7 linked regions of the Homo sapiens genome follow. The gene in region 7 interacts genetically with the main gene of each other region. Each region holds a gene or a part of one and is shown on either strand. Other genes may lie near its edges. The genes, in order: NFU1, CAND1, TMCO6, IGF2BP1, TTC31, SAR1A and PTEN.

Region 1 (4,404 bases), on a different chromosome or scaffold from region 7:
TGTTTTACATTATGTGTGTGTATGCGTGAGATACAAATGTTTGATGGGATAGTTTTCACTATTTTTTCACCCTTACAATAGATAATAGATTCTTAAATTTCCTTTCTTCATCTCTTTTTGTTGTTCTGTTTTATTTTATTACATAAAACCCTGTCACTACATACATGATTCCACAACTCACTACTGGGTTTTAAAAACCCTACCCTAGAAGTTACTTGCACATGTGCCCAAGATACGTGCAGGGATGTATTTACTGTCATAGACATCTGAGACATACAAGTGAAGAAAGCAACTTGCAGAACAGTGAGTCCAATATGATACTATGTATATAAAAGCAAAAACCACAGAACAACAAATGCACTGACAAAAAGATCTGGAAGAATACACACGAAACTGATAACAGGATTTGGTAGGGGTAGTCAAGGGGCATTTAAATTTTATTGTTTGAAACATTTACATCAAGAATGAGTTCATATTTTGTATTAAAAAAGTAAAAGTAAAAAAGCCCCAATTAATTCAGTTATAGATTAGTTAGAGATTATTTCTGTCAGATGTTCAGTTGGCAAAATCTCTTTTCAAGTTAGTCTTTTGAAAATAGTCTGTTTAGGCTGGGTGTGGTGGCTCATGCCTGTAATCCCAGCACTTTGGGAGGTGGGTGGATCACCTGAGGTCAGGAGTTGAGACCAGCCTGGGCAACATGGTGAAACCCCATCTCTACTAAAATACAAAAATTAGCTGGGCGTGGTGGTGGGCGCCTGTAATCCCAGCTACTTGGGAGGCTGAGGCAGGAAAATTGCTTGAACCCAGGAGGCGGAGGTTGCAATGAGCCAAGATCTCACCACTGCACTCCAGCCTGGGGGACAGAGGGTGACTCCGTCTCAAAAGAGAAAAAAAAAAAAATAGTCTGTTTAGTGCTCAGTACAGTGCCTGGCACTTAGTAGGTGTCAAATATTGGTTGAATGAATGATTGATAGTATAGATATAGCAGTCTATTCATTCACCAGGTGATGGACATTTCCATATTTTTCTGTATGTGTGGCTATTTTAAATGAAGCTGCTATGAAGATTTATGTACAAGTCTTTGTGGAGCACGAGTTTTTATTTCTTTTGGGTAAATAACTAGGAGTGGGATTGCTAAATCGTAGAGTAGGAATATAAAACAAAATTGGCCATGAGTTGATCATTGTTAAAGCTGCAAAGGATATGTGGAGAATTTTTTACTTTTCTCTACTTTTGTGTATGTTTAAACTTTTCCATAATCAAGCATTTTAATATCTCTTATTTTTTCTTTTTTTGCAGGCAGTTATTTAGGATTGAAGGAGTAAAAAGTGTCTTCTTTGGACCAGATTTCATCACTGTCACAAAGGTAAACATAGGATTATATAAAATAAGACTTGAAATACTCTTCATTTTTTTCTGAGTCCAATGCCTCTCTCTCCAACATTTCCATTCTTTCTGTTCTTTAATTTTTATATTTTATTTTTGAGACAGGGTCTTACTCTCTTGTCCTCTAAATGTCACAAGAATCAAGCGAAATATGCTATGTTTTTCTTTTTCTTTTCTTTTTCTTTTTTTTGAGATGAAGTCTTGCTCTTGTCCCCCAGGCTGGAGTGTGATGGTGCGATCTTGGCTCACTGCCACCTCTGCCTCCCAGGTCCAAGTGATTCTCCTGCCTCGGCGCCCCCCCCCGCCACCCTGAGTAGCTGGGATTGCAGGCGCCTGCCACCATGCCCAGCTAATTTTTATATTTTTAGTAGAGACAGGGTTTCGCCATGTTGGCCAGGCTGGTCTAGAACTCCCGACCTCAGGTGATCCACCCGCCTCGGCCTCCAAATTGCTGGGATTACAGGCGTGAGCCACCACGCCTATAAAAAATATGCTATGTTTTTCAACAGTCAAGGCAGTATCTGCTAGAAAGGGCTGTTCCATTTTTGATGTCTACTAGATTAATGGGACATGAACTATTTAAATTTGAACTATGTATCCTTTTAAATCTGTTAATTGACATATATCCACGGAACTTAAATCACTTGCCTGATAGTGTGTGAAAATCAAAAATATTTATTAAACTCCCCTTAAGCAAATTGAAAGGATTAGTCTGAGCTCTTTATGTCCTTAAAAGTGGACATACTGGGGGCCGGGTGTGGTGGCTCACGCCTGTAATCCCAGCACTTTGGGAGGCCGAGGTGGGCAGATCATGAGGTCAGGAGATCAAAACCATTCTGGCTAACATGGTGAAACCCCGTCTCTACTAAAAATACAAAAAAAAAGTAGCCGGGCATGGTGGCGGGCGCCTGTAGCCCCAGCTACTCAGGAGGCTGAAGCAGGAGAATGGCGTGAACCCGGGAGGCGGAGCTTGCAGTGAGCGGAGATCGGGCCACTGCACTCCAGCCTGGGCGACAGAGCGAGACTGCATCTCAAAAAAGAAAAAAAGGGGACATACTGGGTTAGTGACATGTTAAATCTAGTCATCTAGTCCAGTATTCTCTTGCGGCTATTTATTTAGAGACAAAGTCTCACTCCACACCCAGGTCAGAGTGCAGTGGCATGATCTCAGCTCACTGCAGCCTAAGCCTCTTGAGCTTAAGCAGTCATCTCACCTCAGCCTCCCTAGTAGCTGGGACTATACGTGCATACCACCATGTCCAACTAATTTTTGTATTTTTTGTAGAGATAGGGTTTCGCCATGTTTTCCAGGCTGGTCTCAAATTTCTGAGCTCAAACAATCTGCTCACCTCGGCCTCCCAAAGTGCTGGGATTACCGGTGTGAACCACCACGTCCAGCCCCCCATTCTTCAGTTTTCTTTCTTCCATATTTTTTAAGGAGAAGAAGGGATGAACATTTATTTAATATATTCAATGTCGGATATGGCCCTAGTGCTTTACATATGTTATCTAATTCTTACAACTAGTTATTTTATAAGTGGGAAATTATATATTTATTTTTTAAAGTTATTTAGTTCTTTTACGTATAGCCTATGCTATATAAAAATTTTTATAGGTAAAAATGTGATTATATCTTAAAGGGTTTTGGTTTTTTTTTTTTTCCTATTTTTCTTGATTAGATTTAGTAAGTCATCTTTTAGCTCTCTTACTTTCATTATTTAGTTACCCTATTTGAAATTGCCCTAGCTCTACAATTTTTTCTTAAGTGAAATGACATAACCAATAGATAATATCCCAAGTTAGGGTATATGTTGATACACATATATGTATGTGTGTGTGTATATCTATCTATCTACACATACATATAGATGGGATCTTGCTCTGTTTCCCCAGGCTGGAATACAGTAGTGCGATCATGGGTCACTGCAACCACTAACTCCCAGGCTCAAGCGATCCTGCTGTCTCAGCTTCCCGAGTAGCTGGGACTACAGGTGCATGCCACTATGCCCAGCTAATTTTTTTTTTATTTTTTTTTATTGTAGAGACAGTGTCCTTCTATGTTGCCCAGGCTGGTCTCAAACTCCTGGGCTCATGCAATCCTTCTGTCTCGGCCTCCCAAAATGTTGGGATTACAGGTGTGAGCCACCACGCCTGGCCCACGTTGGTATTTAATAGACGGAATACTGGATTTATTTTGTTTTCTTCCAGTAATGTTTCTCATCATGGACTATCACATTTTACTGAATGTCTTCAGCAATCGCCTGTTTCTATTTCTGATTTCCAGTTGATAATTAGACTTCTTTATGCATCATTTGTGTTATTTTTTTCTAAATATATATGTATATTTGCAGCTTATATGCTGCCCTTTTTTTCTCATTCAGACAACTTTAGAATATTTTTTCTTTTTATTACCAATATTTTCCTATTTAGTAGAGCCTGCTATTTACTGAAGATCTGAGGTAACACTCTGATTTGTTTTCCAAATAATTTATTACCTACAACTAGTTTCCATTCCCAATCACTAAGATATTTCACTAGTTTTACTTTTATAACCTTAGCAGTCCCCATTTATCTCACCTTTTATGTACTATCTCTATATTGTTTCCTTTTTTTGTTTTTTGAGATGGAGTCTCACTCCGTCGCCCAGGCTGGAGGGCAGTGGCACGATCTCGGCTCACTGCAACCTCCGCCTCCCGGGTTCAAGCGATTCTCCTTCCTTGGCCTCCCTAGTAGCTGGGATTACAGGCCTCTGCAACCACGCCGGCTAATTTTTGTATTATTAGTAGAGAAAGGTTTTCACCATGTTGGCCAGGCTGGTCTCAAACTCCTGACCTCAGGTGATCCACCCGCCTCGGCCTCCCCAAAGTGCTGGGATTACAGGCATGAGCCACCATGCCCAGCCAAATTTCTTTCATACCCTTTAAGTAATATATATAAGTAAATTTTTTGAATAGTTGTAGGCTGTTCCGTATACTTGATCAAGCAATTACATCCTATGTTTTTTTTAAGAGAATGGGA
Region 2 (3,952 bases), on a different chromosome or scaffold from region 7:
CCCTAAAAGAATAAGGATTACATATAATGAGAAGACGTGTGGGCTGAAATACCTAGTGAACAATATTTAAGGGAAACTGAAGTGCAAATGGCCTCACAGGTTTGTTTTTGTGTTTAAGACAAGGTCTCACTCTGTTGCCTGGACTGGAGTACATAGCACGAACATGGTTTACTGCACCTCAGCTTCCTGGGCACAAGTGATTCTCCCACCTCAGCCTCCCGAGTAGCTGGGAGTATAGGTGTGTGCCACCACGTCCAGCTAATTTTTTTATTTCCTTGTGGAGATGGGGTCTCATGACCTTGTCCAGGATGATCTCAAACTCCTGGGCTCAAGCAATCCTGTGTTGGCCTCCTAAACTGCTGAGATTATTGCAAGTGCCTCCTTGCCCAGCCACATGTTGTTGATTTCTTTTTTCTTTTTTTTTCTTTCTTAATTTTTTTTTTTTTTTTTTTTTTTGAGATTGATGGAGTCTTGCTTTGTCTCCCAGGCTGGAGTGCAGTGGCGCAATATCGGCTCACTGCAACCTCTGCCTCCCGGGTTCTAGCTATTCTCCTGCCTCAGCCTCCCAAGTAGCTGTGATTACAGGCGTGTGCCACCATGCCCAGCTAATTTTTGTATTTTTAGTAGAGATGGAGTTTTGCCATGTTGGCCAGGCTGGTTTCAAACTCCTGATCTTAGGTGATACACCCGCCTCGGCCTCCCAAAGTGCTGGGATTACAGGCGTGAGCCACGTCCCCCAGCCAGTTTCTTAATCTATACATCTAGCCCAGTCCATGCCCCTGTTTCAGACTATTATATCCAACCACCTGCTATACATCTCATAAAGGTATCTCAAACACAGCATATCTAAAGCTGAAGTCATCATCTTGCCCTGGTTTTTCCTGTCTCTTTGCTGATGGCATCCCATTTACCCAGTCATTCAAACTGGAAATCTAAAAGCCTCACTTAGCAAGAGTTTGGAGGCAGAATATGATAAAGAACAAGGACTCTGGGAGGCCAAGGCAGGTGGATTGCTTGAGGTCAAGAGTTCGAGACCAGTCTGGCCAACATGGCGAAACCCCGTCTTTGCTAAAAAAACACAAAGAAATTAGCTAGACGTGGTGGCACATGCCTGTAGTCCCAGCTGTGTGGGAGGCTGAGGCAGGGGAATTGCTTGAACCTGGGAGGTGGAGGTTGCAGTGACCCAAGATTGCATGCACCACTGCACTCCAGCCTGGGTGACAAAGCGAGACCCTGTCTCAAAAAAAACAAGGACTCTACAGATAGATAGACATCATATATCATATTAGTTTGAATCCTGGCTGTTAGCTGTTAGACTTGGGCAAATAATTTAACCTCAACTTTCCCTATCTATAAAATGGGAATTAAAATATTTGCACCTTATAGGGTTATTGTGAGGATTAAATAGGAACATTGTATAAAGCACTTAAAACAGTACCTGGGACATACTAAGTAATATAATTGTTAACTCTTACTAGCATTCTGTCCCTTTTATTTCCTAAATATCTCTCATGCCCATCTCCTAAATATCTCTTTCCTAAATATCTCTCATGCTTTTGGCTTAAGACCTCTTTTCCTCCTTATCTATTGACTGGACTGCGGCAAATGCCTGCTAATCGTTATTTTTGTGTTCATTCATTTAGCAAGCCAATTTATTACGCGCTTAGGGTGCTGCCAGGGCTACAAAAGCTGTTGAGACTGTACTTGATATGAAGAAGCTTGCTGATTATCATGGGAAGACTGACATAAGGAAGCACCATAAAATTCTGCTGTATGAGAGGTATACACGGGATACTGGGGGTTAATAATTGAGGGTATGGTCCATTCAACATGAGTGAGACAGAAACAATTCATAAAGGAGATGAAATGTCTTGAGGAATGAGCTCTTAGAAGAATAGTTTTCAAATGAGTGTGCATCACAGTCACCTGTAAGACTTATTAAAACAGATCGCTGGGCCCTACACCCAGAGGCTGTGGTTCAGTAGGCTGTAGTAAACCAGTAATTTGTATTTCTATGACGTTCCCAGGTTCTAATGCTGTTCCCCAAGGCCACACCTTGGAAACCACCACATTAAAATACCCAGAAGGCATTAATTCCCAGTCCTTCCTCTACACAGCTGCAAAACAATGGTCCTGACCATTTCATCTTTGCACTACATCCTTCACTGTCTCTCTTTTGCCCATAGGATAAGTACAAACTAGATCTGGTTACTGCCTGCCCCACCAGCCTCAGCATCTCTCACAACTAGGACTAACTTTTTCTTCTGACAACTATAAAATATTTCCCTTGCCTTCTCAAGTTTGCTCAAGGTCAAGTTATGCCTTTTGCCTGGAATGACTTGACTTCTCTTTTGTTTTACTTAGCTGGCTGCTTTTCATCTTGTAGGTTAGGTCAAGGACTCCAGGAAGTCTTCCCTGGACAAGTAATGAAGAGGGCATAATCCAAGGGCCAACTCCCATGTTTGGAACCTGACTCCATTTTCAGGCACGTAATATTGTCAAATTCCTTTTAAAAGCACCTGTCTGTCTGTTAACGTTGGTGCAGATACTGCTATTCCCCTCCTCCATACCATTGCTGATGGTTACTGAGGGTATGGGAAGGGCCGACTAGTCCAGCTGTTCACAAACAGCCCTTAATGTCAAACTGAATACTGCCAACGTAGTTCCAGTTTCTGTATCTAAAGACTCAGCTTGGAGTCACTTGTCTGGACTAAAAGTAACCCCTCCTTGTCTGGTTTGTGACTTTCTGTACTCTGATGCCCCCAGCTTTCTGCCTTCTAGAAATTTGTCAGAATTTCCAAAATTCTTGGGCCTTCCTTCTTGCTCTATATATGGTTTTGGATTCATTCCTTTTAAAAAATATTTACTGTCATTTCAGTAGAATTTTGACACAATAAATATAAGCACATCAGATTTTTTGCCATCTTGAAGCATCTGTTATTTCTTGGTCTTTGGTAATGCTTTACTGAGAAACATTATAATATAGTTGTAAAAGCTCAGGCTCTAAACCTGGGTTTAAATCTGGTTCTACCACTTCTTGAGAGTGGGACTTTGGGCAAATTATTAATGTATCTAGTGTTACCAGTGGAGGGGCTTGACTACGAATTGTCCAGGTCCTGGGCATTTTGAACAAAGAACTGAACAAAACGCGCAAAGTAGCAGAGGAATGAAATGCAGGAATGAAGCAGCAAAAGCAGGAATTTTATGAAAGCGAGAAAGCACTCTACTGGGTGGGAGTGGGCCTGAGCAAGTGGCTCAAGGGCCCAGTTACAAAGTTTTCTGGGCTTTAAGTATCCCATTTGAGGTTCTTATCATCTACCCCTTATCTGGATGAAGTATTTGGTCTGTGGCTAAAGGCTGAGGTGAATTGGCACCCTATGCACACGAAGAGATGGTCCCTGTGTGGCCCTCAGCCAATCCAGGGTACTCTTCCTTTCCATCTCAGATGTGGTGGAAGTGGGAGGGTTGTAGAGAGAGTAGCCTTTGATCCTTAGTTACTTCGCTTGGGGAGATGGGGTTTTTCCCTTTGGGTTTAGCTTTAGGAAGTTTGTGTTGATTGGCCTTAGGATTCCTGCCCCCAGACCCAGGTATTTTCTTTTAGATCCAGCTCTGGGAAGTCAGCGTGATTTGGCCTTAGATTTCCTGCCCCCAGACCTTGGTGATTTCTCTTTTAAAAAGTTAGCACAAATTGCCCTTAAGTTCCCTGTCTCCAGAGCCTGTTCTCCTGCCTCACTAGGTCTATTTCCTCATTAGTCAAATTGAGTTATATGTAGTAGTCTGAAAGAAGAGTCTCCCCCAACATACTAAGAAGGTTAACACACACACACATGAGACAGGGCAGGGACTCCTCTTAGGGGCCTGCCGGATCCCTCCAAGCATGGAAATTAAGGAAAATTCCAAGCACCTAGCTAGCCTTGTGAAGTAAATGAGCAACTTGATAAGCAAGAAGGTA
Region 3 (5,175 bases), on a different chromosome or scaffold from region 7:
GGAAATCATTCAGGCATCCGGGAGCTATACTACTGAGTGGGTCACCTCTGGCTGCACATCTAAAGACAATTTTACTCACGGAATGATCTTCTCTGGAGCTTCCTCAGCCTGTAGAAGCTGGGACAAGGCATATCCGAGAGCTTCCAGCACAGCCACATGGGGGGACTGGAAGTAGACAGGGTAAGGATCTGACTGGAAGCTGGGTCATCAGGTCTTCAGAGACTTTCAGCCCCTTGGCACAGGGCAGAGGCTGGAGCTACCTAACCAAAGTAGATGGAGCATGTGGGGAGGAGCAAAGGAAGGGTTGCCCAGGGAGGAAGAAAGGAGTCACCTGGATGCAGGCAGCCAAGGCTGGAACAATGCCCTGTGGCAGGAGCTGCCTTCTCACAGCCTCACTCTCCACGATCAGGTTACCCAGTGTATACAGACACAGCTCCTGAGAACAGGCAACAAAAGCACTGGGCTTGGCCTGTTTCATGCCAGGCTGCGTGTGGGGAGATGGGGAGGGGAGGTGATGGGGACGCTGGAGCAGCTATCCTTGCGGCTCACAAGAGGGTGGGGAGATGATGGGTGTAGCCATGGCTGTAGGCATAAGGGCAAACATGTTTTCTTCCTCCTACCTGCCAGCTCAAACTGGTCCCAAAAGCACAATTTTAAAATCTAAACCAAGAACAAGATAGGAAGGGACAGGGCTTACTATGAAGTCTGAGCTGTGACTGGAGAGGTAGGTGAGGAGGTAAGAAGTGGCTGGCAGGCAGGCCTCAGCAACAGTGGACTGCTCGGAGTGAGAGAGCTCATGCAGGCACCGAGCCGCCTCAAGCTGCAGCAGGGCCTGGTTGCTGGTCAGGAGCCCGACCAGGGTCCGCATGCTGCCCTCCAGCCTATGTGAGTGAGTACCAGAGCCCTGCTTAGCTTGTGGTCCATCCCTCAGAGCCCCAACTCCTCCCTCCACCACACCATCCACACTGACCGGATGAAGGTTTGCTGTGTTTCAGGGTGCTGCAAGCCTCGACGAAGGCTGACCAGAGCCCCCTCTCTCTCCTTTTCCTCTGTCCCCCGCTGGGCTTGCCGCAGGAACTGCTGCACCTGGAGTTCAGGGCAGGGAAAGGAGAACACACGGTTCACAGAAAGCAAGTCCTAAGTCTCTCTCTGCCCACTTCACCTGTGAGCCTTCCAATATCACACCTTCAGAACTTGTCATTCACACTAATGCAACTAATAAGCATCTACCTTGCAGTGGAGTGGACAGAGAATCAGAACTGAGTTCTAATACCATACCTGCCACTTACTCCATATGGGACCTGAACCTAAGTTTCCTCACCTGAAAATGAGAATAACAATATCTATCCTGCCTTCATACAGGGTTCTTTCAAGGATATTTAAACCTCTCAGCCTGGCAAAACCTACTCCTCTAGCCATTCTCCCCATGCAACCTACACTCTAACAACAACCAGCCTAACATGAGCTTTTTCTTTTTCTTTTTTTTACATTTCCGAGCTTTTGCACATGCTATTTCTTCTGCCTGGATACCCTCTCCAGCTTCCCACTCTCTTCAGGTTTCTGCTCCTCATTTCCTCTGGGAAGTTAGCTCTTTTTGAGAGACTTAGGAGTTTCTCTTGTTCCTCATGTTTCCTTCCCTTGTGACATCTGTCTTCTTCACCGGGCTGTGAGCACCTCAAAGAAAAGGACTCTATCCTTTCATCTTTGTGTACCTCAGTGACCAGCACAGTGTCCTGGCATAAAGTAAGCATACAATGGAATAGTATGACCTAGGAATAAGTTGATAATATATATGTCAACATGGTATGTACGGTAAACTATGTACGTAAACATAATACAAATACAGGGGATACTCAATGCTTACTGAATAAATCCTTTCATTCACTCATTCAATAAACACTGAGTACTTAACTATATGCCAGATAATGTGCAGGCAACCGGGTTTTCAATGACAACACAGGATCTAGGTTTTCCTGCAATTAAAGTCTAGTTGGAGAAATAACAATAGACAAACCATTAGATAATGATTAATATTCTACAAGAAACAAGTAGGTGGCCGGGCACAGTGGCTCACGCCTGTAATCCCAGCACTTTGGGAGGCCAAGGCGGGTGGATCATGAGGCCAGGTGTTCCAGACCAGCCTGACAAACATGATGAAACCCCGCCTCTACTTAAAATACAAAAATTAGTGGTGGCGCGCGCCTGTAATCCCTGCTACTCGGGAGGCTGAGGCAGGAGAATCGCTTGAACCCGGGAGGCGGATGTTGCAGTGAGCCGAGATCATGCCACTGCACTCCAGCCTGGCGACAGAGCGAGAGTCTCAAAAAAAAAAAAAGAAAAGAAAAGAAAAAAAATAGGCTCTCAAGACAGAATACCAAAAGAAACGAACGTTAGACGTAGCGAATGCCAAGGGCTTGAGACACAAATCCGATATATCGTTGCAGGAACTAAAAAGAGGACGGTGGGTAGGATGAGAAAACTGATAAAATTTGAGTTAGGAAGAGGCTAGACCATGCTATGCTTTGCAAGGCACAGGAAAGATTTTGGTCTCCACGTGTTTTTAAAGGACGTAGTGACGGTGACAAGCATAGATGCAGGGTGACCTTTTAGGAGACTGCAGTAGTATCCAGAGAGGAGGTGGTGGTGGCAGCTTCGATGGTGAGGCATGTAAAGACTCCAAAGCTCTTCAGGAGGTAAACAACTAGGACTTGATGATGGATCGATATGGGGTTGTGGGTCAAAGAGTTGTGCAGGATGATTCCCCTGTTTCTGGCTTGACCCACTGGATGCGTGGAAGTGTAGAGTGGATTGCGTTCAGGTTTGGGGCAGACCTCGAGTACTCCCGGGAGTCTGGCGCCAGCGGGCGTGGACTCCAGCGCACCCTACCTTGCCCCCTCACCTCGGTTTCCCCGAGGATCGCAGCCACACATCCCTCTCCAGCTTCCTCTGGGGCGTCGTTTCTCAGCAGCCTCTTGCTGACCAGCTGCTGCTCCCTCCGCGCCTTCCGCAGTGCTGGGGGCAGAGGAGCCGGCTGAGCGTGGGAAGGACGACCACAACCCAGAACCCGCGGCTCCGAGCCTGGGGTCTCAACTTATCCCCGACCGCCATATACCCCCGCGCTCCCTCGGCCGCCCACACCTGCCTCCCGCTCCCGCCGGCGGCGCCGTAGCTCCTCCACCCCGCAGACCGTGGGCCTGAGGCGGCCCTGCCGTCGGCTCCACATGGTGGAGCAGGAGGAGGAAAGCCGAAGGAAACAGCAGCCACAACGCTCCCAGGGGCGTAGAAGATGGCACCGACTGCGCAGCCTCAGCACAGGGCGGGAACAGGCGGGGAGGGCGCGAGGAGCGGGGTGGGTGCTGGGTGAGGGCGGGGCTCGGCGAGTGGACGCCTCGCGGGGACGGTGGGCGGGGCGAGGGCTAGAGACGCTGCACCACTAGACCAGAGCCAGAGGCGTCGCTCTGCCTCTGATTGATTTCCTGTCTTACCAATTCTAGGAAAAAAAGTCTCTCATCCCTGACCTCGAGTGACCCAAGCCAGCAGTGTCACAATCTACTCAGCAAACACAACTTCCCCACCCACAATACGCTCTAGATGAAAGTTCAAAACAATCCCGAACTGCGGGAAGCGCCATGATGCCGTTTCACTATTAATGCGGATCCCACTGATGAGAGCTGCCAAAAACGCTTGAAGCGTCATTGAATTGTCAACGAAAAGAGTCCAACTCTGTAAAATATTTGAAGAGACTTATTCTGAGCCAAATATGAGTGACCATGGCCCTTGACACAGCCCTCAGGAGGTCCTGAGAACATGTGCCCAAGGTGGTCCGGTACAGCTTGGTTTTACATATTTTAGGGAGATATGAGACTTCAGTTCATTCAAGAAATACACTGGTTGGGCCGGGCCTGGTGGCTCATGCCTGTAATCCCAGCACTTTGGGAGGCCTGGGCGGGTGGATCAGCTGAGGTCAGGAATTTGAGACCAGCCTGGCCAACATGGTGAAACCCCATCTTTACTAAAAATACAAAAATTAGCCGGGAGTAGTGGTGGGTGCCTGTAATCCCAGCTACTCGGGAGCCTGAGGCAGGAGAATCGTTTGAACCCGGGAGGCGGAGATTGCAGTGGGCCGAGATCGCGCCCCATTGCCTGGGGTACAAGAGCGAAACTCCGTCTCAAAAAAAAAAAAAAGAAAGAAAGAAAGAAAGAAATCTGGGATATGATGAGGTTTCTCTTCAAATAATTAGATCAATCTTTTATTCTTTAATTCATAGTACTCCCCCCCACACACACTTTTGTTTTCCTTTTTCTCCTTTTTGCCTTCGTTAGATGCCGAGGCACGCCACAGTACAAGACGTTATCAGTACCAGACGTTATCAGTACCAGCTCACATTCCTTTCATTATTTGGAAAGAGGACTAACTTTCTAGTTCATTACAGGCACCCCTTCCCCTTTCCTCTCCACTTTCTTTTACGTGCCCACATTACCTAAAAAAATCAAATGTTTAGCCAACCGGGATTAGTTCAGATTGTATGACCCGACCCCGGCCAATGGGGAAAGGGTACAGGGGCAGGACTTGCGTCAGGAATAAAGGCTCTCGTGCCCCTTTGTTCAGGTGTGCTCTCATGGCGACTGGCCAAGCAGACACCCCTCTGAGCAGAAGTAAAATTGCTTTGCTAATAATCCTTTGTTCGAGTGTTCAATTTCCCTTAGGATTTTGAGCGTTATTCCTAAGAGAAAGAAAAGAAAGAAAGGAAGGAAGAAAGAAAGAAAGAAAGAAAGGGAGAAAAGAAAGAAAGAAAAGAAAAGAGGAAAGGAGGAAGGGAAGAGAGGGGAGGGGGAAAGAGAGAAAGACATTGGTTTGTGGGACAACAGAAAGGCGGGACAACTCGAAGTGGGGCGGTGGGGGGCTTCCAGCTTATAGGTAGATTTTAAATTTTTCTGGTTGACAATTGGTTGAGTTTCTCTAAAGACCTGAAATCAATAGAAAGGAATGTCTGGGTTAAGATAAAGGATTGTGGAGACCCAAGTTCTTATTTGCAGAGGAAACCTTCAAATCCTAGGCTTCAGAGAGAATGGGTTGTAAAATGTTTCTTATCAAACTTAAAGTCTGTGTTGATGTTAACGGTAGAGAGGTATAATGAGGCACGTTCAACCCCTACTTCCCATCATGGCCTGAAA
Region 4 (3,500 bases), on a different chromosome or scaffold from region 7:
GAGGGGTCGGAGACGGGTGGTAGACTCAGCTCAGGGCAAGGCTATATTTGCTTTTGGAGTTGCCGGCCTTCCCTTCCCCTTTCAAAAAAGAGAGAGAGTAGAGAGAGAGAAAGTGGCGGCGGCGCTGCAGGCTCTTCCTGGAGCGCTCGCCCCGGCCCGGCGGCCCTAACCTTCCCCGCCCGCCCCCGCGCCAGTCCCAGCCCGGCAATCTCGTCTCGCTCTGAGGTGGGGCCGCCCGCCTGCCTTCTCTTAACAAGCCCCTGACAGAGAACATCCGCTGGCCTGGGTCTCCGAGGAGGACTTCCCCTCTCAGATCCCTGAGACCCCAGGAGATCCCAGGCCGCTTGTGGTGCGCCTTAGTCCTGGGAACCCCAGATCGCAAACCTCGCAGCAGATACCCCACGAGAGGGTTCCCCCTCACCGGCTGCGGGCTGCGGGCTGCAGACCCTTTCCAGCACCTGGGCTGCCTCAGGAGCTCTCCATTCTAAGGCAAAAAGCCAGTGGGTAAATGTGAAGTGAAAAGAGGCAAGAAGAGAGGAAGAGTAGGTAAAGGGAAAATAGGATGAGACAGTTGGAGAGAAAATGGAAGTGCAAGTAGCTGTTCCTCTCTCCCAGTAGCTGGGGTCTTGGCCTGAGAAATAGAACCTTAAAGAGTTAAGTGTCAATTTAAGTAACCTGCAATCTTTACAAAATGAGCTGTTTGTGTCTGTCCACAGGTCCTGAAGGCTGACCGAAACAATAACAGAGGCAGTAATAGTAGTCAGAGGTTCTATCCATGGATTTTGTTTATCTTGTAAAAGAGAGACAACAGGCCTTCCAGTTGTCCAGGGTCTCAGCCAGTCTTCGACTCCATGTTAGTGTAAAACTTCTGCACCCCATCCATTTCCACCTTTCCTCTCCTCCCCTATACCTTTTTAAATGCCTGTCAAAACAAAAAGCAGAAGGAAAGGTCTCTCAAACCTGTACTCAAGAAAGTGTATGCCCATTTGGTTACCGATAGTTTGGTTAAAAATGATCCTGTAAGATACCACCTGACACACACCATCGCAAGGGCAAGGAGGCAATGCCAGCAGGAAGCTACGTAGTCCCCAGGTAGTGACTTCATTCTACTAGGAGAACTTGGATGGCCCTTCAGATTTTGATCAGAGGAGACTATGTACTTATTACTGGATAGAAGGGGGGTCATCCTACTATTAAAATTTATTGCAGAGCCTGCTTTGTAAGACCTGCTTACTACCTTGCAGCACAGTAGGTTTGCAATAATACAACAGGCTGGAACAAACTTTTGCTCTAACCATAGTTGACTGACAAAATATATGTTGATTACAGGTAAGTCACAGAAAAGTAGGTTTGGACCTCATACTTTTAATACAGTTGGAAAAAACCTGATTGCAACACACTGAAATGTAACTGTGTGCAGAACAAACACCATCAGAAATGCAGTCCTTTTGCATTTTGGGAAATCCAGGTTCCCAGGAGCATGGCTGGTCGTAAGCAAACTGCTTTTGACTGAAATAGAGAGCAAACAGCTCGATGATTAAGAGAAGTTTTGAGTGGATTGTGCAGATATTTTCAAGACCCCTTAGGACAAGTCTGGTTATTAGACAAGTGGCATTTTGGTGGCTGGAAGGCATGTAAGGGATGGTGTCTGATATGGGATGGCTGGAAATTTTGCTTATAGTTTAGAGGAGGGTTGTGGAGAAAAATCCCATAATAGAGGAGGCAGGAGAAGAGGGGAAGCTCTACATTTTCTCTTTCCCTTTCTACCATGTCTGGTTAGTGGATTCTAGTCAATCCTCTCTACATTTCCTTATGAAAAGAAGGTTAAGGAGAACTTCAAATTTTTTTTTTTTCATTTTGAGTTAATTTTGGTTAAAAACTCAATCACTCATTCAGGACAGGCACGGTGGCTCACATCTGCAATCCTAGCACTTCTGGAGGCCGAATAGGGCAGATTACATGAGGCCAGGAGTTCAAGACCAGCTTGGCCGACATGGTGAAACCCTGCCTGTACTAAAAATACAAAAATTAGCCAGGTGTGGTGGTGCATGCCTGTAGTCCCAGCTACTCGGGAGGCTGAGGCCAGAGAATTGCTTAAATCTGAGAGGTGGAGGTTGCAGTGAGCCGAGATCGCACCACTGCACTCCAGCTTGGGTAACAGCGAGACTGTGTCTCAAACAAAAACAAAAACCAACTCAATCACTCATTTGGATGTTTTGGCCACTTGAAATGGAAAATGTTAAGTCTGAGTGAAATTTGATTGGATAGTTTAGTTTAGTTGATTGGATATAGTTAGGATCTTTAAGGGGAGAAATCAGAGAATTCAGAAATATGTGTGTAATGGTTGTTTGTGTGGTCTGACCTCTTTGGCAAAGAGGAACAAGGAGGAAAGGAATCATTCAAAATTCTTAAGGCTCCAGGAGGGAAGAAGTGCTGTTAGGTCAGAGTCTTAATGACCTACCCTAGGTCTCTCACTCATCCTTTACTGGGGTCTGGAGGAAAGGTCTTCCTCCCAGGAGAATTCAGTGTTTAAAAGCTTGAGCTCAATTTCCGTAACTGTAAAGAAGTGGTCCTAATAGTAGTACACAATAGCTCTTATTGTTATTATTTTGTTGTAGATATTGACTTCTGTCCCTCCTGCCCTAGCCATTGTTTGTCCTCCTTTGAAGCTTTACAGTTGTATCCTACCCTGCCCCATATAGCTGTGGTTAGCTCCATGAGTATTAGAACTGATCAAGTGTACAGATGCCTGAAAATGTGTCCATGAGAGGTTGTCTTTGAACTGTGTGTGTGTCAGCTTGGGCTATATATCTAAGGCACTAGGAACAGTGATGGCTAGGCATGTTGAAGGGGATCTGTGCGTAGGGTGCTTTGGTAACTCTACCTGTATGTTGAAAGGAAAAGCCACCTTTTAGTGGAGAGAGATGAAGCTCACCAGGGCAACCCCACAGAGCCCCTAGATTATAGATTCCCCCAGTACATTCTCTGAGACAGAGGCTTGGAGAGATGAGGCGAGCATGGTGGATAATGCTATTAATTGTTCTTTAGGGGAAACAGGCCATTTATTCTGTTATCGTTTATGCCCTGAACTTGGTCCAGGTTCCTAGCTGAAATTTCACACTTTACGGCTACTGTCAAAGGTGTACATGTAGAGTAGGGACATTGGTGAGAGGGGAACTAACTCTGCATATAAGGTAGGTGTTGTAAGAATTCAGGATGAAGGGGACTGTAAGAATCCTCCTGGGGGTCTGAGGAAGGAAGAAATGAGAGTGACCTCCCCCATCTGCTGGGATGGGTATGTTCATTTTCATGTCCTGCTCTTGGTAAGCTAACAAAGTAGGCATTCAGGAACTGGGGATCCCTAGATACCCAGGGGGTGACTGCACACATTGTTCCCTACTTCTTCTGCTTCTGTAGTGTCCTCACATTCTCCCCCTGGTTCCCTGGTCTGGAACCAGTTCCCAGAGATGCACTCAGAACCCACCTTTATGCCCACTTCT
Region 5 (4,404 bases), on a different chromosome or scaffold from region 7:
GGAGGGGAGGCTGGTGTTGGGGGCAGTTCCTGGAGAGAGCAAGGGCTTCGCTGGCTTGATCTCTCCACCATGGCAGCCACCAACCAGCTATCCAGCCCAGAGACTCTCACTGGCTCTGACCTCTCCCTCCTCAGCACCGCAAAATCTGCTGCCCCCAGCTATTGTAGTGAATCACCTCCCCTCGCTGCTTTCCTGCCTTCCCAAGGGTTGAGTATGGTATTCAACCTGGCCTCCTCTACCATCCAGGATCTTCTCTCCTCAACCTGAGTTAGCCACACTGAGGCCCCTGGAATGAAGCCCTCCCACCTGCTCTTCCAGCTAGGCCCCCTGTCATATCTGCAGTATGAACAGCTCCACATAACCCACCCTGAGGCTAGCTCACACCTAAACAAGTACAGCAGCTCCTGGCTGGCCGCTCCTCTGCACCTCATCTGTTTCTCCACAAAACTAAGCTCTAAGAAATTACTTCCCTACTCAGGGACATCCAATAATCCCCCACTGCCAAGGCCATAGGCAGAGTTGAACCTAATTCCTCAGCCTACGATTCAGAGCCTTCCAAAAGGCTCCCAGGCTGACCTTTCCAGCCCTCCTTTTAATCCTCCCCTGCTTCACTGCTGTCCTCCCTCCCACCACCAGGCTCCCTCCAGCCTTGGGGCCTTCCCCCAGCTGCTCTCCAATCCCTCCTAACTCTTGAGCTTCTTTCTCACATCTTGCCTCACCTTCAAGGTCCAGTTCAAATTCTATCTCCCTTCAAAGCCTTCCCAGACCCTTTCATCTCCAATTATCTCTGCCTCCTCCAACTAACCTGCAACCACATTATCTGTGTTACACAATTTAGAAACTTGTTATTGATTGCTTTCTATTGCTCTCCTCATTGGCCAGGCAGCATGGAATTCCAAAGGGCATTGTGCTGGAGTGGAGCCACTTGCATCTGAGGTTATTTTTTCTTTTGAGGTGGATTCTTGCTCTGTCACCCAGGCTGGAGTGCAGTGGTATGATCTCAACTCACTGCAACCTCTGCCTCCCGTGTTCAAGCGATTCTCCTGCCTCACCCTCCCAAGTAGCTGGGATTACAGGCACACGCCACAATACCATTTGTATTTTTAGTAGAGAGGCGGTTTCACCATGTTGGCCAAGTTGTCTTGAACTCTTGACCTCAAGTGATCCACCCGCCTCAGCCTCCCAAAGTGCTGGGATTGCAGGTGTGAGCCCCTGTGCCCGGCCGACTATTTTTTGTTTGTTTCTGAGACAGGGTCTTGCTGTGTTGCCCAGGCTAGACCCAAACACCTAGGCTCAAGCGATCCTCCTGCCTGAGCCTCCTGAGTAGATGGGACTTCAGGTTTGCACCATCATGTCCAGCTTGTCCAAATTTTCACTCTGACACTACCTGCCTGTTTGATTCTGGAGAAGTCATTTAACTTCTTTGGACCTCTCCCTCATTCACAAAATAAGGCAAGACTCTTTAAGGCCTGGCCCACACATTCTGTGGTCCTGATGGGAGTCATTTCCTCAGGGAGTATAAGCTTCAAAGACAGGAATGATCACATTCCTATTTGCCTAATCAGGCCTAAACAGAGCAGGACTGACTGAGACGCTTAGAAGCCAATGATCTTTTGGACTTATTGAGTTAGAAGCCACAAACTTAGAAACTCCAGCGTGCTAAAAAAAAATCTGTAGGCAGGACTTCAGATGACTAAGGTATATTCAATTTTCTAAACAATTTTAGATCCAAGGCTTCCCTCAGAAGATAGTCCTGGCTTAACAGCATCTCCAATACTGCTAGGCACTTTCATCAGTCTTATACTTAAAATTCAATTTCCTGGTGGGTTTGTGTCACCTTCCTAACTGCAACATAAGCATAAATAATGAGCCAGGTGTGGTGCGGACGCCTATAGTCCCAGCTACTCGGGAGGCTGAAATCGAAGGACTGTTTGAGCCCAGGAGTTCAAGGCTGCAGTGAACTATGATCATGCCACTGCACTGAAGCCTGGGTAACAGAGGGAGACCCTGTCTCGATAAATAAATATGGCTGGGCATGGTGGCTCACGCCTGTAATCCCAGCACTTTGGGAGGCCAAGACGGGTGGGTCACTTGAGGCCAAGAGTTTTAGACCAGCCTGGCCAACATGGCGAAACCCCATCTATACTAAAGATACAAAAATTAGCTGGGCATGGTGGCACATGCCTGTAGTCCCAGCTACTCAGGAGGCTGAGGCACGAGAATTGCTCGAACTTGGGAGGCAGATGTTGCAGTAGCCAAGATCACACCACTGCACACCAGCCTGGGTGACAGAGTGAGACTCTGTCTCATAAAAATAAATAAATTAATTAATTAATAATAAATAAATAAAGCATGCTCTCTGCCCCATGTCAGGCAGCCTCCTCAGGATGTGCCACTCAAATATATACTGTATTTCTTCTCTCTTCCTCCTCAAACCAGTGTAGTCATCATTAAAAATAAAAAATAAAAATAAATTTAAAAAAATAAAAAGCCGGGTGCAGTGGCTCACACCTGTAATCCCAGCAATTCGGGAGGCCAAGGCAAGCAGATCACTTGAGGTCAGGAGTTCGAGACCAGCCTGACCAACATGGTGAAACCCGTCTCTACTAAAAATACAAAAATTAAGCAGGTGTGGTGGCACGCATCTGTAATCCCAGCTACTTGGGAGGCTGAGGTAGGAGAATTGCTTGAAACTGGGAAGTGGAGGTTGTGGTGAGCCGAGATCTCGCCACTGCACTCCAGCCTGGGCAACAGAGCGAGACTACGTCTCAAAAAAACAAACAAACAGGTACTTCCTTGACCTTCTACTACCTGTCCCCAAACCACAGTCTGTGCTGCTCTCTGAATTCACTACATGGCCACTACATATGATCTGGTCCCCCAATATCATTGTGAATCTTCTCCTATCTTGTTACCCTCCTCCAGCCACAGCAGTGTCCTTGGAAGTTCCCACAACATACCAACTGTGCTCCCATCTTAGGGCTTTGCACTTTACTTTGCCTAGAATGCTTTTTCCCCAGTGAACAGCTCACTCCTTCGTCCTTTTTAGATCTCTATGTAAATGTCACTTTCTCAGAGAGGCCTTCTCTGAACACTCCTTTTTTTTTTTTTTTGAGGTGGAGTTTCGCCCTTGTTGCCCAGGCTGGAGTGCAATGGCATGAACTTGGCTCACCGCAACCTCCGCCTCCAGGGTTCAAGTGATTCTCCTGCCTCGGCCTCCAGAGTAGCTGGGATTACAGGCATGCACCACCATGCCCAGCTAATTTTGTATCTTTTAGTAGAAACGGGGTTTCTTCATGTTGGTCAGGCTGGTCTCAAACTCCTGACCTCAGGTGATCCATGTGCCTCAGCCTCCCAAAGTGCTGGGATTACAGGCGTGAGCCACCACACTTGGCCTGACCACTACTTTTAGAAGGAGAAACTTCCCAACTCCACTCAGCACTCCCTATCCTCCTTCTTGCTTTTTCTTTGTACTTCTCATGTTTGACATACTATGTTGTTTATTTATTTGGTCACTGGTTGCCCTCATTAGATGCTCCTAATTTGTTGAACAGAAAGATTTTGGTCTGTTTGATTTACTGCTGTTTCTCAGTACCTACAACAGTATCTAGTACATAGGTGGTATTGTGTGTGTGCTGAGTAAACAGAGATTGGTGAGGAGGCTATTCCAATAGAGACAGAGCCAGGAACTGTGTGTGAAGAAACATGTGTGACACAGTGAGTGTGAACTTTTTTTTTTTTTGAGACGGAGTCTAACCCTGTCTCCAGGCTGGAATGCAATGGCGCAACCTTGGCTCACTGCAACCTCCATCTCCTGGGTTCAAGCAATTCCCTTGCCTCAGCCTCCCAAGTAGCTGGGACTATAGGCGCCCACCACCATGCCCAGCTAATTTTTTGTATTTTAGTAGAGACGGTGTTTCACCATGTTGGCCAGGATGGTCTCCATCTCCTGACCTCATGATCCGCCTGCATCAACCTCCCAAAGTGCTAGGATTACAGGTGTGAGCCACTGCGCCTGGCCGTGAGTGTAGACTTTATCTTGTCAGTGATAGCAGTGGACTTGATCTGGGGAATGAAACAATCAAATGAAATAGTGCTGAGACGGCCAGGCATGGTGGCTCAAGCCTGTAATCCCAGCACTTTGGGAAGTCAAGGAGGGTGGATCACCTGAGGTCTGGAGTTTGAGATCAGCATGACCAACATGGAGAAACGCAATCTGTACAAAAATACAAAATTGGGCCAGGTGCGGTGGCTCACGCCTGTAATCCCAGCATTTTGGGAGGCTGAGGTGGGCGGATCACAAGGTCAGGAGATCGAGACCAGCCTGGCTAACATGGTGAAACCCTGTCTCTACTAAAAATACAAAAAATTAGCCAGGCGTGGTGGCAGGCGCCTGTAGTCCCA
Region 6 (3,547 bases), about 18 Mb from region 7:
TCTCCTGCCTCAGCCTTCTGCATAGCTGGGATTACAAGCAAGCGCTGCCGCGCCCAGCTGTTCATTTTATTCTTCATCTGGCATTCTTTGAATGTAAGGGGATTTTTTTGTGGGTAATGCTTTTACTGGTTACTGTTCATGAAAATTTTGAATGCAGTTGGTCATATCTAGTATAAAGCCCTGTGTTCAGATGCTCCTGCTGATGGAGAGGAGTAAAAGTGTGGACCTTCCATTTTTCTGCACCGCATCTGAGATACTAAAGCAAAAATTCAGCATGGCCAGACAATGCTGAGAAACCTTAAGACCCACCAGTGTGTCTAGATCCTACCCTCTTAATTTCATTCAGAGGTCATTTTGCTTATTACCAATATATGTAAACCTTTTAGTAGCTTTTGATAGCTATGAGAAACAATAGAAAAAGTAGTGTTAATATCAGTACCAGTTAAGTTATTTACTGGCTTGGGAACTTACTGCTATATCCTGAAAAGTATTCTTTTTTTGCTTTTTTGTTTCTTGAGACAGGGTCTTGCTCTGCCACCCAGGCTGGGGTGCAGTGACACAATCATAGCTCACGGCAGCCTCAAATTCCTGGGCTCAAGCAATCCTCTTGCCTCAGCCTCCCAAGTAGCTGGAACTACAAGCACGTGCCACCATGCCTGACTAATTTTAATTTTTTTTTTTTTTTTTTGTAGAGATGCAGGTCTCTCTATGTTACCCAGGCTGGTCTTGAACTCCTGAGGTCAGGGAGGAATCCCCCACCTCAGCCTTGCAAAATGCTGGGATTACAGGTGTGAGCCACGGGGGCCCGGCCTGAATAAGTATTCTTATTTTAAGAAAATCTATTTGTAAAATGAGTTTGGGTGTGATTATTCATGTATGAAAAGATTCTCTTCTTATCCCTTAATGGTTCTCTAAAATAGTGATGTCATTTCTTTTTATAAATTGAGACCCGTGTCTGCAAAAATGATTAAATATTGAGATAACATTGGTAAATGGAGCAGGGCAAGTGGTGCTGGCCAGTAGAATTTTGGGTGACTTTTGTTTTTTAGAGTTGTTTACAGGATAGATTAATATGTTTTTCATTCAAATCAATGTGCTTTTCATTCTTATTTTCTATTTAGTGCATCTAAGTGGCATTCTGATTCACATTATTGATAAGACTGATTTCCTAGAGTTGTTCTTCACTGGATGACAGCAGTCGTATGTCTAGGGAATGTGAATGAACCGCTGCCTGGAGGAGTAAGTCACACAGTAAAAGAAAGTGTAGGCATACCTCGGATATACTGTGAGTTTAGTTCCAGACTACTGAAATAAAACAAGTACAGTAAAGCAAGTAACACGAATATTTTGGTTTCCTAGTGCACATAAAAGTTACGTTTACACTATACTGTAGTCTGTTAAGTGTACAGTAGCATTACGTCTTAGAAAATACGTACCTTATTTAAAAAATACTTTATGGCTAAAAAATGCTAACAAGCATCGGAGCCTTCTGCGAGTCATAACCTCTTTGCTGGTTGGGGATCTTACCTCCATGTTACTCCACGTTGATAGCTGTTGACTGATCAGGTTGATGATTGCTAAAGGTTGGGATGGCTGTGGCAGTTTCTTAAAATAAGACAACAAGGAAGTTTGTTGCATCAGTTAATGCTTGTTTTCAAGAAAGATTTCTCTGTAGCATGCAATGCTGTTTGATAGCATTTTACCCAAAGCAGAATTTATTTCAAAATTGGAACCAGTCCTCTTAAACCCTGCTGCTGCTCAAGTAAGTTTATGTAAACTCAAGTAAGTTTTTGTAATTTTCTAAATTGTTGGTGTCATTTCAACAGTATTCATAGCATCTTCACCAGGACTAGATTCCATCTCAAAAAAACCACTTTTTTTGCTTATCCATAAGAAGCATCTCTTTATCCATTAGTTTGATCATGAAATTACAGCAGTTGTCACATCTTCAGGCTCTACTTCTAATTCTAGTTCTCTTGCTGTTTCTACCACATCTAAGGTTACTTCTTCCTCCAAAGTCTCGAACCCCTCAAAGTTTTCCACGAGGGTTGGAATCACTGTCTTCCTAACTCCTGTTAATATTGATATTTTGACCTCTTCCCGTGAATCATAACTGTTCTTACTGGTACCTAGAATGGTGACTCCTTTCCAGGAGGTTTTCAGTTTACTTTGCCCAGATCCAGCAGAGAAATCAGTCTATGGCATTGATGGCTTTGTGAAATATATTTCTTTTTTTTTTTTTTTTTTTTTGAGACGGAGTCTCGCTCTGTCGCCCAGGCTGGAGTGCAGTGGCGGGATCTCGGCTCACTGCAAGCTCCGCCTCCCGGGTTCACGCCATTCTCCTGCCTCAGCCTCCCAAGTAGCTGGGACCACAGGCGCCCGCCACTACGCCCGGCTAATTTTTTGTATTTTTAGTAGAGACGGGGTTTCACCGTTTTAGCCGGGATGGTCTCGATCTCCTGACCTCGTGATCCGCCCGCCTCGGCCTCCCAAAGGAAATATATTTCTTAAATGAAAGACTGGCAAATCGAAAATACTCCTTGATCCATGGGAAGCAGAATGGATGTTGTTAGTAGACATTAAAACAACATTAACTTCTTTCTGCACCTCCATCAAAGCCCATGGGTGACCAGGTGCGTTGTCAATGAGCAGTAATATCTTCAAATCTTTTTTTCTGAGCAATAGGTCTTCACAGTGGGCTTAAAATACTTAGTAAACCATGCTGTAAACAGATGTGTGGTAGGCAGAGTAGATTTAGTATAATTCTTTTTTTAATTGTAATTTTTTTAATTGGAAAACAAATACACAACTTGGAATGGATTTGAGGCAAATTGTGCCATAAGCACATTTTCTTTAAGTGGCTAAACAAAGTTTAAAAAGCAAGTAACAGTAAAAGAAAATGTTTCTGGTACAGGACCAGCAGTACAGAAAAAACAGTGTGTGAGGTACCTGGGAGTACCTGGATAATACACCCATTCTGCAGTAGTGCAACTTTTAAGTACATATTGTTGGCTGTCCGTAGTCCACACAGAGTTACAACTCCATACTTCAACACCATGCTGACAGTTCCTAAAGAAAACTACTTTAAAAAAAGGCATAACCCGGATGTTCCCTTATTTGACCAACTCCACCTAAGTTTAGATGTGCAGAAGGGCTTAGATATATCCGGAGTAAGCCACAGGCAACATGTTACTTCATCAGTTTTCTAAAATAAGGTTTCAGGGCAATGACAGTAAGGGAAGAACACATGGAGGAATGAAGTCCTGATTACCATACATGCATATTTTTTTTTGACAGTAGGGAGAAGCCTTTTACAGATAAGTTACAAACAAAAGGCAAATAAACAGTTTTGTGCAAGAAATTTAACACATTCTGTACAAGGTCTTCATTATGCTGTCATCATTTGTACAAACTCATAGTTTACTTGACCATCACCATCAGGATCTGCTTCCCTGATCATTTAATCAACTTCTTCATCTGTTAACTTCACTCCAAGGTTTGTCATCACATGGTGAAGTTCTACACCACTAATATAGCCATTGCCATC
Region 7 (4,404 bases):
TTAATTTAAGAAGAAAGTCTTCATCCTTATCCTACCAACCCCCATTCCCTGAGCATATTTATCATTACTAGTCCCAGCATATTTGCTCCCATATTTCCTATGCTTACCTGTGAAGATTTTCATAACTTTTTCCTTGCTTTTTACTGTCACTGTTGGTTCTGTGATTTATGACAGATACTGCTCTTGTAGGAATGCTGGCTTTGACTGAAATTTGTTACTGCTTTTGTATTTAAAACTTTTTTTTTATTATAAGTAGAATTATGGAACAGTAGTAGAAAAAGTTTGACTTTTGTAATCAGAGATACTGAGCTTGAGTTCTGGCTCTTTCATTTGTATACTGTTATTTGGGGCAAGTTTTTTAATGCTCTTAAGTCTTAGCTTTCTCATATATAAAATGGAGATAATAACAGTTATCACGTGATTGTGAGGATGAAACAAAAAAAAGTGGAAACTCTTTGTAAGGTGTGTTCATCTGGTTGACACTTAGTAGTCATTACTTCCACTTTCCGTCCATATAGTCCTCTTAACAGTAATATTTGAGAGGCATTTTTATTAAAGCAGTCTTAAGGAGTGTTCGTCAAACCACATGTTCTGGGATCCTGAGAAAGTAGGGGAAGTTTAGAGAACTGAAGCTGCACAAAACTAATGTTTATTTTCTGTTGTGTTGTCCTGAGACCAGCTTCTTAGATTGTGTTTCCTAGTCCTACATCTCTGATTCCTTATAAAATATTCCATTATGAATTCTTCACTATTGACAATTTCTCCCCTTTTATCTTAAAAGTACCAAAGAAAGTGTAAAATGTGACTGTCTTGTCAGTCCTCTTTTTCCTGTTTTTCATGTCAGTGGGTATGAAATTACTAGCAAGGATGCATATATGTGCATATGTCATTACTAAATGCATTTTCTTTCTAGAAAAACTCAATATACTAAATTGTACTAAAAAGGAAAAGCTTGTTTTGTTTTGAGTGGTAGTATGAAAGTTGTTTTATTTTAGGTCTGACCAGTTAGAAACCAATGGATTGTAGTTTATTTATAATTAGTTAAACCTTCATGTGAATTTGGTTTTGAATTACCTTTAAGGTAGAGAAGAAACTATATAGATGTTTTTCAGGGTTTCTAAATGTACAATACAGGTTCACAATCACTTATTTGAAACTCTTGGGGCCAAGTATGTTTCCATTTTCAGAAATTTTAGTTTTCAAAAGGTAGCACAGATAAATATACTTTTACATAAACACCCCAGTGGGGTGTGGGTCAGTACCTGAAATGAAATGTTTTACTCTTCGCTCTAAGTGTATTAAATATTATGTACAATCTTATTACTTCAGATCAGGATTTGCTGTAGTTGAGTTTGCCATAAAACTTAAGAGAAAATTTTAGATGTTTTGAACTTTTGGGATATTGAAATTGCAGGTTAAGGAGCTATGGACCTTTATTTGTTTTAAAATGCTAAGAGTTTATTTTAAGTAATTTTTAAAAAATTTGTTTTGCATAGTAGTTGGAGTTACCAGGGTACTGCTAACCACACTGATATGTAAGATCTCTTTCTGAGCCTTTTATTGTTTGTAAACATGGCCTGTTAATCATTAGAAAGCCAGTACATACTAACATATCACTGCTATTAAGACAAATATTAGCATACTCTAGTAATGACAAGTCAGCATTTTACTATTCTGTATTGATTTTACTTATTCTTTCATTACTCTCATACTGTAATTAAAACTTGCAATCTGAGAGACTGTTGAAAAAGGTGATCGTTGGCTTTTCAACAGGGAGTAAGGTCTGGTTTAAAAAAAAATTAGTAAGCATTTGGCCAAGTAGATTAACAACATTCAGTTTTTCTTTACTGTCCTTATGCTTTTACTATTTTTAACATATATCTTTTTGAAGAATAGTTTGAGAATTATGTATGCTTAACTATGAGATACAGATACTATTGAAACTAGTCAGTTGTTTATAGGTACTTGTAAAATTAAAAATATATTCCAATAGCATGCAGATTTTTCATAGAGGAAATTTGAAAGCATGGAAGCACCTGAATTTACAGTACTCTGTATTAGTGGCATCACAAGTTTTTAAGCAAATGTATTAGCTCTAATTGCATACACTTAATCTTTTAAGCTTTGGTTTTATTATTATAATATGGGGGTGATAACAGTATCTACTTAATAGAATTCTTGTTATTACATGAAATAATTAATGTTAAACACAGCATAATATGTGTCACATTATAAAGATTCAGGCAATGTTTGTTAGTATTAGTACTTTTTTTTCTTCCTAAGTGCAAAAGATAACTTTATATCACTTTTAAACTTTTCTTTTAGTTGTGCTGAAAGACATTATGACACCGCCAAATTTAATTGCAGAGGTAGGTATGAATGTACTGTACTATGTTGTATAACTTAAACCCGATAGACTGTATCTTACTGTCATAACAATAATGAGTCATCCAGATTATCGAGTGAGATACATATTTAAGAATTATCTTTAAAAATTTCAAAAATTTTAATTTTACTGTTGTGTTTTAGGAAAAAGTATTGCATAAAGCTATTAATATTGTCAGGAAGACTAAAGTGCAGCATAGACTAAGAATTAGGAAAATTCCTAGACTAAAAATAGTATAAGGAGAGGGTTTACCTACTATTTGAGGCAGTTGGTCTAATAGTAAGCAATCACAGGGAGAAAGCAGAACTACTTAACTCTTCTGTGTTGAGGAATGACATAAAAGGTAGGAAAGGATATAACAAATGTTGATAAGAGGAGTCTGATGGATGAGAGGAGGGAACTGCTTTAAATGAGTTTCTACTTCAGACATAAGTTAATTCTCAGAGCCCACAAAAACTTTCACTTTTATTTGTGAAATACAACTCAGTTCTCATGGCTTAACACTTTAAACCATGAGAAAACTGAAGAGTTGAGAAGCTTGGCAGATGCTGCTGTGATAGTCAAAAAGAAAGTGGGTGCCATGAGCTACTATTGATGTATTTGCCATTGATCCCTCCTGAAAATCTAGAATGGACTTTCAGACAAATGGTTTGAAAATTCTAAATCACTAATGATTGAGATTTAGTATAGGTTTACTAAGAACGGGTTTTTTTTGTTTTTGTTTTTGGTGGATTTAGGCTGTTGCTTACTAAGCAAAGCAGGCTTTAGTTGAGGTTTATCTTGCTTTAAACAGATATTTAACAGATTTTCCTGGAGGTTTTTGTGTACCACTGGGAAAATGAAGTTAGGCAGATGACTAAGTGAAAGCTGTCCTGCTGACTCCTTATAATGATAGTCATTGTCTACCAGAAGATCTCTCCTGTCACACCAAAGGATAATTGATTATATCCTGTACCATATTATGAGTCACCTGATTGGAGATATAAGACATACTTCTCACATATTTAGATGACACAGGTTAGTACATTGAATATCAGCCAGGGTTTTTAAGGATCTTAATAGAGTGGAACTAAGGTAGAAACTATTAAGAGCAATTAATAGTGATATATCTATAGTCCTGTTTCTAAACAAGTTTTTTTAAAAACCTCAACTCTGACTATAGTGAACAGAGAAGTCTTGGACTCTTACAATTCATGTGAGAAGACCTGAAACTTTGATAACAATTATATACATTTTGTGAGTAATTTCTTTGGTGTATGCCTTCACATATCTCTGGTATGTGACCTATGCTGCAGTCCATTGAGCATAGATTCCCAGAATGTATTCTCCTGCAGAAAATGGAGGAAAATAATACTTGGCTTCCCTAATGATTACATGTGTATACAACACTAACATTTGCAAGACCACCTTTAAATAACACACTTAGCATTTTTATTTTATGAAATGTAATATGTAGTTCTTTGCATAGTTTATCCTATTAGTAATCTATTCTGTCTTTGGAATATGTTTTGTGATGATGAAATAAATACTATAAATAGTATTATTCCTTTTGCATTGAGAGTCCTGACGAAATGTCCATGTGACAGTTCATTTTGGGTTTAGCTCTACCTCTAATATGTGACCTATGCTACCAGTCCGTATAGCGTAAATTCCCAGAATATATCCTCCTGAATAAAATGGGGGAAAATAATACCTGGCTTCCTTAATGATTATATTTAAGACTTATCAAGAGACTATTTTCTATTTAACAATTAGAAAGTTAAGCAATACATTATTTTTCTCTGGAATCCAGTGTTTCTTTTAAATACCTGTTAAGTTTGTATGCAACATTTCTAAAGTTACCTACTTGTTAATTAAAAATTCAAGAGTTTTTTTTTCTTATTCTGAGGTTATCTTTTTACCACAGTTGCACAATATCCTTTTGAAGACCATAACCCACCACAGCTAGAACTTATCAAACCCTTTTGTGAAGATCTTGACCAATGGCTAAGTGAAGATGACAATCATGTTGCAGCAAT

The links.
Region 1: changes in PTEN (region 7) and NFU1 together harm fitness more than expected from each alone (negative genetic interaction), as found in Homo sapiens cells (one large-scale study listed by BioGRID).
Region 2: changes in PTEN (region 7) and CAND1 together harm fitness more than expected from each alone (negative genetic interaction), as found in Homo sapiens cells (one large-scale study listed by BioGRID).
Region 3: changes in PTEN (region 7) and TMCO6 together harm fitness more than expected from each alone (negative genetic interaction), as found in Homo sapiens cells (one large-scale study listed by BioGRID).
Region 4: changes in PTEN (region 7) and IGF2BP1 together harm fitness more than expected from each alone (negative genetic interaction), as found in Homo sapiens cells (one large-scale study listed by BioGRID).
Region 5: changes in PTEN (region 7) and TTC31 impair growth when combined (synthetic growth defect), as found in Homo sapiens cells (one large-scale study listed by BioGRID).
Region 6: changes in PTEN (region 7) and SAR1A together harm fitness less than expected from each alone (positive genetic interaction), as found in Homo sapiens cells (one large-scale study listed by BioGRID).

What each region holds. Positions count from the first base shown.
Region 1 is NC_000002.12:69,416,500-69,420,903, reverse strand, and holds part of NFU1 (NFU1 iron-sulfur cluster scaffold homolog, mitochondrial), read left to right. Parts: intron 1-1,299; coding exon 1,300-1,366; intron 1,367-4,404. UniProt on the Homo sapiens protein: Iron-sulfur cluster scaffold protein which can assemble [4Fe-4S] clusters and deliver them to target proteins.
Region 2 is NC_000012.12:67,317,041-67,320,992, forward strand, and holds the end of CAND1 (cullin-associated NEDD8-dissociated protein 1), read left to right. Parts: 3' UTR 1-2,913; downstream 2,914-3,952. UniProt on the Homo sapiens protein: Key assembly factor of SCF (SKP1-CUL1-F-box protein) E3 ubiquitin ligase complexes that promotes the exchange of the substrate-recognition F-box subunit in SCF complexes, thereby playing a key role in the cellular repertoire of SCF complexes.
Region 3 is NC_000005.10:140,637,576-140,642,750, reverse strand, and holds the start of TMCO6 (transmembrane and coiled-coil domain-containing protein 6), read right to left. Parts: upstream 3,301-5,175; 5' UTR 3,224-3,300; coding exon 3,139-3,223; intron 3,013-3,138; coding exon 2,900-3,012; exon of another isoform or gene 2,887-2,899; intron 1,087-2,886; coding exon 971-1,086; intron 882-970; coding exon 698-881; intron 437-697; coding exon 332-436; intron 261-331; exon of another isoform or gene 166-260; coding exon 80-165; intron 1-79.
Region 4 is NC_000017.11:49,003,885-49,007,384, forward strand, and holds part of IGF2BP1 (insulin-like growth factor 2 mRNA-binding protein 1), read left to right. Parts: exon of another isoform or gene 1-922; intron 923-3,500. UniProt on the Homo sapiens protein: RNA-binding factor that recruits target transcripts to cytoplasmic protein-RNA complexes (mRNPs). This transcript 'caging' into mRNPs allows mRNA transport and transient storage.
Region 5 is NC_000002.12:74,485,603-74,490,006, reverse strand, and holds part of TTC31 (tetratricopeptide repeat protein 31), read right to left. Parts: intron 996-4,404; exon of another isoform or gene 720-995; intron 1-719.
Region 6 is NC_000010.11:70,163,968-70,167,514, reverse strand, and holds part of SAR1A (small COPII coat GTPase SAR1A), read left to right. Parts: intron 1-3,547. UniProt on the Homo sapiens protein: Small GTPase that cycles between an active GTP-bound and an inactive GDP-bound state and mainly functions in vesicle-mediated endoplasmic reticulum (ER) to Golgi transport.
Region 7 is NC_000010.11:87,928,721-87,933,124, forward strand, and holds part of PTEN (phosphatidylinositol 3,4,5-trisphosphate 3-phosphatase and dual-specificity protein phosphatase PTEN), read left to right. Parts: intron 1-2,325; coding exon 2,326-2,369; intron 2,370-4,292; coding exon 4,293-4,404. UniProt on the Homo sapiens protein: Dual-specificity protein phosphatase, dephosphorylating tyrosine-, serine- and threonine-phosphorylated proteins.